Homo sapiens: one gene and its partners. The protein of the gene in region 2 interacts with the protein of the main gene of each other region in a pairwise test. Each region holds a gene or a part of one and is shown on either strand. Other genes may lie near its edges.

Region 1 (3,746 bases), on a different chromosome or scaffold from region 2:
AGGGATAAAGAAAGGCCTAAGTCTTATTTGTGGGATCTGAGTTTAACTCCTGTGACTGTCTTTTTAGCAACAGCAAACTACTTAACCCCTTTTTTTTCTTTTTTTTGAGACAGAGTCTTGCTCTGTTGCCCAGGCTAGAGTGCAGTGGCGCAATCTCAGCTCACTGCAACCTCTGCCTCCCGGGTTCAAGCGATTCTCCTGCCTCAGCCTCTCAAGTAGCTGGGATTACAGGTGCCCACCACTGCACCCGGCTAATTTTTTTTGTATTTTTAGTAAAGACAGGGTTTCACCATCTTGACCAGGCTGGTCTCGAACTCCTGACCTCGTGATCCACCTGCCTCGGCCTCCCAAAGTCCTGGGATTACAGGCATGAGCCACCGCGCCGGGACTTAACCTCTTTAAACTCGGCCTTAACCTCTTTAAACCTTATCCTCTTTAAATTGGAATTCCTATCCCGAGGGATTGTTGAAAGGCTGAAACAAACAAATGTATTATGAAAATGTAAAAGCATGCAATAAACTCAGCAAGGGGTAACCATATATAAAACTAAGTATATTTCTGTGCAGAATATAGTCCCTATAGTCGAATAGGCGCAAGTGTTAGAAACAGGCTCTGCCATGGGGTCCCTGAATCTGACTTCTGAATGTCAAGAACTTTTTGAAATCTGATGCAGAATGTCGTGCTCACATGTGTTGGTGAATTCTTCTGCGAAAATGATTCACAGTTTGCTTCAGGGTCTGAAATGAGTTCACGACCCAAAATAGGAAGGGGATCGGTAGGGCAGTGTATATAGCACACCATTGACGTAACCATTAATAACTCCATCTTAGGAGAAGACCCCATTTTTACATTTCATAAGGCATTTGCCAACAAGCATACTATACTTTAATAAACAAATAAAAAAATAGTCCGCATCCAGCCAGGTAAGGACACAAACAAGCACTCTCTTCCATTACCAGTTCTCACCACAGGACTCTGTGACTATAAAAGATGGGGCCTTCGGCAGCTCCCAACAGCCGGCTTAATTGACGCCGTCTTTGCAGAAGGACCTCTCGGCCCAAACCAGGCTTCTTTTCCTCTTCTTCACTCCCTCTGGATTGGTTCGTTAATCTCTTTGCCCCATCTCTTTTTCCTCATGATGTTAAATGCTACTTTGTTGTGGGATGCTTAACTTGTAACATTTATATGTGGATTAAGTACACTACTATGATGCGTGAGCGGCTTGAGCCTGTGTGTCAGGCTCTGACTACCCAGTGACCAGCAAGTGCTGAGAACTGCCTCCTTGGGAACTCCACGCAGCTCGTGGCTTTTGTGATCGAAAGAGCGTCCACAGCAGCCTGACATGGTGGAAAACACAGCATGCGTGGACCTGGTTATTTCTAGCCTGGCACCCTGATGACAGGAGGTTAAGGCTTTTGATTTAGGGAGAGAGACCTGAGGGTAACCCAAAGAAAGGCCTCAGGTCATCGCAGAGGAGACAGAAATTACCGGTGGGCGTCCCGGCCTGCTCCTCTTCTTCCCAGAGCTCAAACTGGGCAGCAGGCCTGGCTTTGTCTCCCTTCTAGGTACCCGTTGGGCCTGGCGCGGTTTCCAAGTCTCCCTCAATTTCCCTCCAGAATCCCGCGCTGGGAGCGGAAGCCCGCGGACTCTCAGGAAGACCTAGATTTCAAATCCGGGGCGGGGGAGCCGGGCCGAGCCTCAGGGCGGGACCAAAGCGGGAGGACTGGCGCGGGACGCGAGGGCGGGACCAGGGCGTGAGGACGCGGGGCGCGGGGGCGGGGCGCGCTGCGGTGGGCGGGCGCCTCCTGGGGCCCAGCCTGGGGCTGGGTTCTCGGGCGGGCGGGAGCTAGGGGACGGGCCGCAGCGGAGGCGGCGCGAGGGGCCGACAGGGGCGGGCGGGAGGCGGGGCTGGCGCTGGAGCACATCTCCCGGCGGCGGGCCGCGGAAGCAGTGCAGACGCGGCTCCTAGCGGATGGGTGCTATTGTGAGGCGGTTGTAGAAGGTATGAGGAGGCTGTGCGGTGACTGCCGCCCTCGCTCCGGGCCGTCAGCCCTGCCCCCGCTCCCTGCGTTCTCCCAGGCCCTGCGCCCGCCCGGGTACCTGCCCGGTCTGGAAGGCGGAGTGTTTGTTTTGCCACCTCGCCCGGGCGGGGGCGAGCAGTGAAGCCCGCGGAGCGAGAGACTTGGCCCGGAGGCGGGAGCCTGGGCCGGGGCCGGGGAAGCCAGGCAGCGGGTTAAGGCTTTTGATTTAGGGAGAGGGACCTGGGGGTAACCTAAGGAAAGGCCTCAGGTCATCGGAGGGGAGACCTGGCCCGGGGGCGGGAGGCTGGGCTGGGACCGGGGAGGCCGGGCAGCGCGAGGCCGGGCCGGGGAGGCCAGGCAGCGGGAGGCCTGGCCAGGGGAACCGAGCCCGGGGCCGGGAGGTCGGGCACGGGGCACCGAGCTCCGAGGGCGGGAGACCTGGCGGCCGGCCGAGTGCCGGAAGGCCGGGTCAGGCGGCGGAAGGCAGCGGCAAGCTGGGAAACGGACGGCGCTACCGCCGGCGGAGGAGTGGCCCCGGGAAGCGGTGCTGCGAGGGCTGGGGCGGCCGGGTGCTGACTGTGAGATACTCGCCCTGGGGGCTGATCCTTCCAATTTTGGACGAGGCTTCCGTCTCTGCTGCCTTCCATGCCTGGGGCCTGGATTATCCCGGGTTGACAATGTGGTTTAGCTCTTCCAGAGAGATAGTTGCAGGGTTTAAACTCCAATTCCTTTTCGGCCCTGCAGAGTTTCGTGAGTGCTCGCAGCTCATACCTGTGGCTGTGTATCCGTGGCCACAGCTGGTTGGCGTCGCCTTGAAATCCCAGGCCGTGAGGAGTTAGCGAGCCCTGCTCACACTCGGCGCTCTGGTTTTCGGTGGGTGTGCCCTGCACCTGCCTCTTCCCCCATTCTCAGTAAGTGGCACCCAAGCAGGAAACCGGAAAACATCGTTCGCAGCCCCCTCTCGCCCACCCACTTCTTTTCCTGCTTAGTCGCCAAGCCTTGTCGACCTTGTAAATGTCTGCCAGATCTGTCCGCGTCTCTCTATCTCTGATTTCAGCCGTCTGACCACAGCAGCCTCTTCCCTGGTCTCTCCACTTCCAGACCCGCCTGCTCCTTTGCAGTCCACTTTTTACAGCACAGGCAGAGGGATCTTTATGAAATGAAAGTCTAGAAAGCTCGTCCTTTGCCCTTAGGTTAAACCCAGCACTTAATATGGCTAACAAACCCCTGCGTGTGTTGGGTCCTGAGTGCCCCCACCCCTCCTTATCTTTAGCACCGGTTCGATTTCTGCACGGCAATGCTGACCTTCATACCTAGTGTCTGCCTGCAACACCTCTGCACTCCCTTTCTCCCGCCATCACATTTGATTAGAAGAGCTGCTACTTAAATTTCTGTTTTCATTAAACAGTTTAAGGTTAAATCTTCCTATGCTGTGTTCTTTCTGCAGCCAGCATTCCCTAAGAGAGATGTGTCATATCCTTTGCAGTTGCTTGTTTACTATCTTCCCTGCTAGATTTGCAAGCAAACTCCAGGAGGGACGGACTTGGTTTATCTTGGTATCCTTAGTGTCTTGCCCCAAATGCGGGGCCTGGCATAACACAGTGAATGCCCATCCATTGTATTTTTACTTTTATGCCCTATCTAGAAAAAGTAGACCTGGTTTAGGATTATTCAGCAAATAATAATTAGAAAAGAAATGGTAGAGGTGACATACGGAGTCACTGA
Region 2 (3,746 bases):
GGCACGATCTCGGCTCACCACAACTTCCGCCTCCTGGATTCAAGCGATTCTCCTGCCTCAGCCTCCCGAGTAGCTGAGATTACAGGCATGCACCACCACGCCCGGCTAATTTTGTATTTTTTGTAGAGATGGGGTTTCTCCGCATTGGCCAGGCTGGTCTTGAACTCCCAACCTCAGGTGATCCGCCCGCCTCGGCCTCCCAAAGTGCTGGGATTACAGGTGTGAGCCACCATGCCTAGCTATGTCATATTCTTCTTATCCAGCTTTATTACAGTGATTGCTTTTTACATGTCAGCCTTTAAATTAAAGACTCAGCAAAGCTTACTAGAGGCAGAACCATTCCAGCTGGAAAAGTTCAAGAGTTGCCATCCCAAAGGTTGGTCTTTCAGATGTGCTTATCCAACAAGACGTTCCTCTTTACGATGACTAAGAGTCACTATCACGCTTACCCAGAAGTTGCAAATGATGACTAAGAAAAACGGAAACTTCCAACGTGGTAACTAAAGTACACACTTGCAACAGTAAGTTTTCCAAAAGCAAAGCACAATTTTCTCCACCGTGAACTTGTCCCTGAGCCACCCTGTCTTCATGAGACTCTCAGAAAGGGAGGGTCAGCTCTCTGTGACCTCATCTTACAGAACTCCTTCAACTAGTCCCCATGTCTCCTCATTACTGACACATCATAGGAGAAAAGATATGCAGACATATACTGTCAGTGACATGAGTAATGCTGAACAAATAATAAAGGTCAAAGGTACTAGATTCTATTTCTCAGAGTTCAGTTCACAACCTCCACATCATCCTCTCAAAGCAGCCACCATCATCTGTAGTGGATATAGGAGGCCACAGAGCTATGGCAGGCCTGCCCCTGACCAGTGACAAGGCAGGGCGGAAGTGGCTCTGTTAAGGATGACTGCTGGGATTCAGGAGGAGCCAGGGAATAAACACTCACCCAGGACTCCATGTCTGGCCTTTGTTCTGCAGCCTCTGGCCTTTAATCAGACAAAGTGCTGGAGTGGCAATGCCTGCCGCTCTGAAAGCCCCTTCAGAGGAAACATCTGCAGCAGGGTTCAAAGGGCAGAGGCAGTTGCTCAAAGGAAGCTGGAATTTAAAAAGAGATGAAAAACAAACTTGGCGGGGGGCGGGCGGTGGCGGGGGTGAATAGAGCAGGGGCAACTGAAGTTGGCTTTCTAATCCAAACAATTAGATTAAGTGACAGTGAACATAGGAAAGAACAAATATTTGCTCAGCCTACTGTTAGGCTCTTTGCCAACTGCTCCCACGTGGAGACTTAGAAAGCCAAGTCCAAGAAGGCGAGATGATGCCAGACAGCTGCCCAGCAAGCCCTGGCCCCAGGTGCTCGCAAATTCCCTCTCTTTGCATGGGCAGTATCCTATTCCACTTTGGGAAAAAACAAGAGAAACTGAGAAAGCCAAGGGTATTCTGAAGTATTAGAAAGAGATTAGCACTGTTTAACCACAAATGACAGGAACTAGGGAGAGAGGAAGGCCTAAGAGCCAGGATATTCTGGCAGGTACTGTCTTAAAATCATACATTAACCAGGTGCTTTGCTTCTCAGGTACTAAATCCATCTGGGAACACATACATCAACCTAAAGGCCAAGTCTCTAGAGATCCCTTCCCAACGAGCTTTTTCTACCCCATGCTCTCAGTACACATGCAAAGGCTTTTGCTTCCACTGGGGAAAAAAAACAACAGGAAACTCAAGTAGCACCGTTCCACACAGCAGAAACACAGGGCTGCAGATACCTGGCACTGAGTCCCCACACTGCCATTAAACCAGTGCCGGAGCTGTGTGCAAATAACAACACTCGTTAAATCAAATGCTCATCCCCATTCTGTGGTCAATATTTGAAGACATGAAATGGTTCAGAAACCTGTCTGAGCTTAAAGGATGAGTAAGCCTCAGACTCCAGAAGTTAAACTATAAGCATGGACTTTGGAGTTTGTGCAGGTACATGGAGAGAATGCAGGTGCTGTGTCCCTCACATAAAGGCTGCCTCTGCACTGTGCAGAATATTCAGAGATGATGGCAGGTGCTAAGGAGGAAAATAAAGCAGAAAAGGCCTCGCAAGGAAGATAACTTTTGAGGGAAAACCTATTATGTGTTTTGTTCATGTATATTTCTTCATATGAAAGAAAAAAAGAAAAGCAAGACTATGTTACGAAAGTTCCTCTTCCCCTCCTCTGGCGTCACTTCCCCTACCCCAGCCAATTTTGGAAATATGGCTATTTAGTCTTGCCTTTCTACACTCCACACCCAGAGTTCTTTTTTAGCAACACTGAAAGGTTAGAGACAACTCACTGCTTAGGAGAAAAATCTCTGCATCAACTAATTTTGTCTCCCCTCTTGACACTGTCTCAGGACATTATTGATTGTCACAACTTAGCGGCGAGGTATTACTTTTTACAACAGAATTATCAGACCCAAAGTGTTAACAGTGCCCAGGTTGGCAAACTCCAATTTAAGGGAATTGATCTTAACCTGAAATATCTGTTCCTGGTATTCTATTATACTTCAGTGTCTTGTGTAGGGAGAACAAATGAGTTAGAAAAGAATAGAACGTTCATGATGAAACTCAAATCTGCTTAGCCACAATAAAAGCAGATTCTTATCTGCAAGGTATCCTAAGCCCTTCCAGTTTTGAAAAAAAAGTCATGAAAGGCCCAGGGCGCTGGATCATACCTGTAATCCCAGCACTTTGGGAGGCCGAGGCAGGCGGATCACCTGAGATCAGGAGTTCGAGACCAGCCCGGCCAACATGGCGAAAACCTGTCTCTATCAAAAATACAAAAATTAGCCAGGCGTGTTGGCAGGCGCCTGTAATCCCAGCTAGCTGGGAGACTGAGGCAGGAGAATCGCTTGAACCTAGGAGGCAGAGGTTGCAGTGAGCCAAGACCACACCCCTACACTCCAGCCTGGGTGACAGAGCAAAACTCTGTCTCAAAAAAAAAAAAAAAAAAAAAAAAAAAACAAAAAACAGAAAAAAGTCATGAAGTTCCTGGAAGTGAAGGACAGGAAAGGCAGACTGGCTGAGACCACACCACATACTGGGGAAATTGGGCAGAGGACTAAATAATTTGAAAATTACACTTTACTTTCTAGTATCAGTTCTGTGAAAAGAAAAGCCTTGAACGGAACCATTTCCTTTGCAAAGGAAACAGCAAGATCCAAGTCTGCAGCGAAAGTTCTTTCTCAGGTGAAATTATAACTAGTCAGAAGCAGAGTCAGTGATCATGCACACCGTAGACTCAACCTCCTGCCATCGCAGAAGGTGCCGCACTCGGCATGCACCTTGGTGTCCGTGCACAGGCTGTTCCCTCTGCCCAGGTACCACCTGCCAGTTACAGCCTAGGTACTGCGAAATGCAAGAGCCCACTGTGCTGGGTGCCCCTCCTTGCTCCACAGCGCTCCACAGCTGCTTCTATCACATCACCACCACACTACTGTATTTGTTTCCATGTCTGCGTCCTTCCTTATTTGCCTCTTAGTTCCAGCAGCAGACCTGGAGTAGGCAACAAACAACACTGCGTCACACTCAGTGACCACCAGCGGGGAGTAATGCTGCATGTGATGGCCTAAGAACCAAGAAACAGGTTTTCTTGGTGGAAATTTGCCTGGAGCCTGACTTATCTGTTAGGTGATTTTTTTTTGATGTGGGATAGGCCCAAGAGAATTTTCAGGGATTCTCAACCAATTGCTTCAGGTCCTGGGGAAAGTGTTGC
Region 3 (3,746 bases), on a different chromosome or scaffold from region 2:
CATCACACCTTCCCAGGCAGGGCCCACCCTCACCTGCAGGGGGACCTTGACTTTGTTGGCCACCTCTCGGATCAGGGCCTCTGACACCGCGTTTGAAGCATAGCGTTGCTTGCTGTTCACCTTGATCACGGGGCCCTGGGGAGAGTCAAGGTGAGGCAGAGGTAATGACAGGCCCAAAGGGAATGAGTCGGCGCTCGGAACAGCCAGACCTCCAAGTCCCTAGGGAGAAATGGCACGTCTCACCTTGTGGAATAAAGGCCGGTGGTTCTCCTCATGCTTGTCCCTGTAAGAGACAGATAAGGGCCAGACATAGCAAACAGGAGCAGGCCTGTCGACACTCACCACCCTCCCATGGCAGACATCACTAATAGATCACCACTCTTTCCCGCCCAGCCCAGTGGGACTTCAGAGTCATTCCACACACAGGGTTCCGGGCAGCCTCTAGCAATAGATGGAAACAAGTTTGTAGACAAAGGTGTATTCCACACACCTGGGTTAGGCATTGCATGACTTTGACCAAGTTGGTCTCGCAGTAGTGAAAAGGAAGTGCCCGTGAACCTCCCGGCAGAATGAAGAAGGGAGAAAGGAAGAGGCTGGGGCCAAGGCAGAGCCTCAAGGCAGGTTATGCTTGGGTCTCCAGCTATGTGAAGACTGTGTGACTGGCACTAGAGACTCACAGGTAGTTGGGATGCACAGCATGGGCCATGTCTGCGCTGATCATGAAGGACTTGGGTATGGCTTCCTCGAAGGCTGTCGGGTGCTGGCACGAGGCTGAGATCCGCCGCAGCACCAGCTCTGTCAGCAGTGACTGTGCTCCCTGTGCACTCTCAGACCCCACCTGGCGACAGTAGAGTCCTGACTCTGGGAATCTGGGCTTAGGGGCCTGATCTTGGAAGCCAGTGAGAGGGGCCCATTGCCCAACTGGCCCAAAACCCCACTGAGTCACTGGGTGTTCTTAGCAACACCCCTAACCTGGGGTCGTCACTGAACACCAGACAGTGGGCTGAGACCAAACTAACTCACATTCTTAACAGTACTGGTGGGTTTCCTGCACTGCTCCCCTTCCTCCTCTCGTGACCCTCACATCTGGGGCTCAGCACAGGTGCCCCACCACACTGGTCAATTTTCTTTTATGTGTATGACAGAGACTGCTAACTGTCCATGATATCTTTTAGAACACCCAAGTTGTAGCTAAGCACTTAACTACCCAGCTAGAGATGACATTTCCAGGCTCCCCTGCAGCTAAGTTCTGTGGAATGTAAGCAGTGATGAATGTCACTTCTGGATCATGCCCTTAAAGCCAGGGGGTGTCTACTGCCCCTTTGCCCTCTCTTCCCTTCCTACTAACTCAGTGTAGACATGATGGCCAGAGCTGGAACGGCCACCCTGAATCCTGAAATGGAAGTCATGTGTTCAGGACGGCAGGGACCCCTCCTAAACTGCTAACTCTGACCTGGGTTGTTACATGAGAGAGCACTAGCTGTTCAAGCTCTGTTATGCAGCTGAGACTGCAGCCTCACACACGCAGGCATCATGAGGACCTACTCTGTGCTGAGCCCTGGGGCTACGAGGATGGGCTGGGTAGAGTCCCTGTCCTAAAGGAAGAAGCTCACCATGTGGCACAAAGAGAGATACAGGAGAGACGGTCACCCTCGAATAAGCAGATCTATGTTGAGTCAGAGGAGACACCAAGTGCTAAGGAGGCACAGGCAGCATCTCCCCTGTCTTGGGGCCCCCAGAAGAGCCCTGGCTCACGGTGGATGCCTGGCACAACAAGTTGGCTGTGGAAGACTCCGCAGAGGTGACCCTCCCCAGAACCCTCCACGTACCTCTTCGTTGTCATAGAGTGTGACCATGCGCACGTGAGGCTCTGTGGCCAGGGAGCCAGGGCCTGCACAGGAATCTATCAAGGCCTGGTTCAGGGAAGGAAATGAGAGCATCATCTCCAACCTGCTTCTGCTGGAACTCAGCCCACCAGCACCTTGGGTGTGCACGCTCCCCCATCCACCAGCACCTTGGGTGTGCACATTCCCCTGTCTGCCTTCCATGGCCATGACTTTTATCAATTAGGGCACTGCCTGGCAGAGGGTGTGGTGGGGACCTTTTTTTTCTTGCCAAATAAATAGCTACATAGGTAGAAACCTTTAAGGTGTGGTGAGGACCTTTTTTTTCTCTTTTTTTCTTTCTTTCTTTTTTTTTTTGGCCAGATCAATAGCTAGGTAGAAACCTTTTCAACTGGGACAGGAGACACCATCCTTTGGGTGTTGTTCTCTACCTTCCCATGCAAAAGGCAGTAGAAGATGTGGAGGACAGAGAGGAAGAGCTGAGAGTCCTGGAAAGCCAAAAGGCTACACACATCACATAAACTGATTGGCCTCAGGGAAAAGACTGAGGTTCAAAGAGGTGACAGACTCCATCAAGGTGACATGACTGGCTGGTTGCCTGCAGAAGTAGATGCAGGTCCCAGGTCCAGCTCTGGTCTCAATTACAGCCCAAAGCCTATCTCCAGCCACAGGATTACAGGGAAGGAAAGGCAGAAAAAGGCAGAGGGAGATCAAGGGCAAGAGGAGAGAAAGAAAGGGAACTGACTAGGGTGGAGAGAAGGTGGGGAATATCAAGGTGACTAGGAAGAGAGGCTACCTGACTGAGATCCCAAGAAACAGGGAGAAGGCTGGGGTCTTAAGCCTGGGGAGTGGCGTAGGAAGCAGAAGGAGGTGGATGATACTGCCTTGTGGATGATAAAGCCTTTCCCTGAGGCAGAGGTTGTTAACTTCAGGAAAAGCAGCAGGAGCAAGGCTAGGACAAGAGACCATGGTGCCTGAAACAACTTCTCCTCCTTCTTCTTGCCTCAACACCCTGATAGTGCAAGGGCAGAGACCAAAGGTGGCGATGCTGAGGCTGCAACATTTAGGGCCCCCTCCTGGTCCATCCAGCACCAGCAGACTGAGCGGGTAGACAATGGCCCTCTCTCACAACCTGCTGGGGCTTTAGGCAGCTCCCCCGACCCCAAACATACCACCTCTGCTGGTGGTTATGTGCTGCCTGGGGCGCCCCGGCTCCTCACCTGCAGGGCACAGAAGCAGCTGTGCAGATTGTCCAGCCGAGGAGCAAAGATGAACTCATCATAGGCACCACCCAAGACCTAGAGAGGTAAGACAGTCAGCCCGACCTTCAACCCTCCACCCCCACTCACCTTTCTTTTGCTCCCAAGGGTCTCCTTGGTTTCTTGCGCAACCTCTCCCTGACCCCTGGCTTAGGGCACTATTTTGTTTTTTCTTTTTTTTGAGATGAAGGTTCGCTCTTGTCGCCCAGTCTGAAGTGCAATGGCTCGATCTCGGCTCACTGCAACTTCCGCCTCCCGGGTTCAAAGGATTCTCGTGCCTCAGCCTCCTGAGTAGCTGGGATTACAGGCATGCACCACCAGGCCCAGCTAATTTTTGTATTTTTATTAGAGACAGGGTTTCACCATGGTGGTCAGGCTAGTCTCGAACTCCTGACCTCATGTGATTCCCCCCGCCTCAGCCTCCCAAAGTGCTGGGATTCCTTGCTAGGCAGGACCAAGCAGAGATTGGAGAAGGGGGCTGGGTTGGTGCTGAGGAACAAAAGGGTGGAGGCCAATAGCTCTTGACCTCTTCCTGTGGGTCAAGAAAAGGAAGGGCTGAATTGTCATCAAAAAGGCCAAAGAAGTAAACAGAGGAAACCAGCCAAAAAACAGAAACTTAGTACGTGTTCAAGCAGGACACAGC

What was found.
Region 1: the proteins of MPP1 (region 2) and PRIMPOL interact in binary tests that used the Homo sapiens proteins (3 or more experiments, as listed by UniProt).
Region 3: the proteins of MPP1 (region 2) and DNPEP interact in binary tests that used the Homo sapiens proteins (3 or more experiments, as listed by UniProt).

Annotation. Positions count from the first base shown.
Region 1 is NC_000004.12:184,647,651-184,651,396, reverse strand, and holds the start of PRIMPOL (DNA-directed primase/polymerase protein), read right to left. Parts: upstream 1,660-3,746; 5' UTR 1,489-1,659; intron 1-1,488. UniProt on the Homo sapiens protein: DNA primase and DNA polymerase required to tolerate replication-stalling lesions by bypassing them.
Region 2 is NC_000023.11:154,798,793-154,802,538, forward strand, and holds part of MPP1 (55 kDa erythrocyte membrane protein), read right to left. Parts: intron 1,102-3,746; exon of another isoform or gene 965-1,101; coding exon of another isoform or gene 953-964; intron 1-952. UniProt on the Homo sapiens protein: Essential regulator of neutrophil polarity. Regulates neutrophil polarization by regulating AKT1 phosphorylation through a mechanism that is independent of PIK3CG activity.
Region 3 is NC_000002.12:219,381,302-219,385,047, forward strand, and holds part of DNPEP (aspartyl aminopeptidase), read right to left. Parts: intron 3,143-3,746; coding exon 3,065-3,142; intron 1,914-3,064; coding exon 1,830-1,913; intron 839-1,829; coding exon 678-838; intron 284-677; coding exon 244-283; intron 136-243; coding exon 34-135; intron 1-33.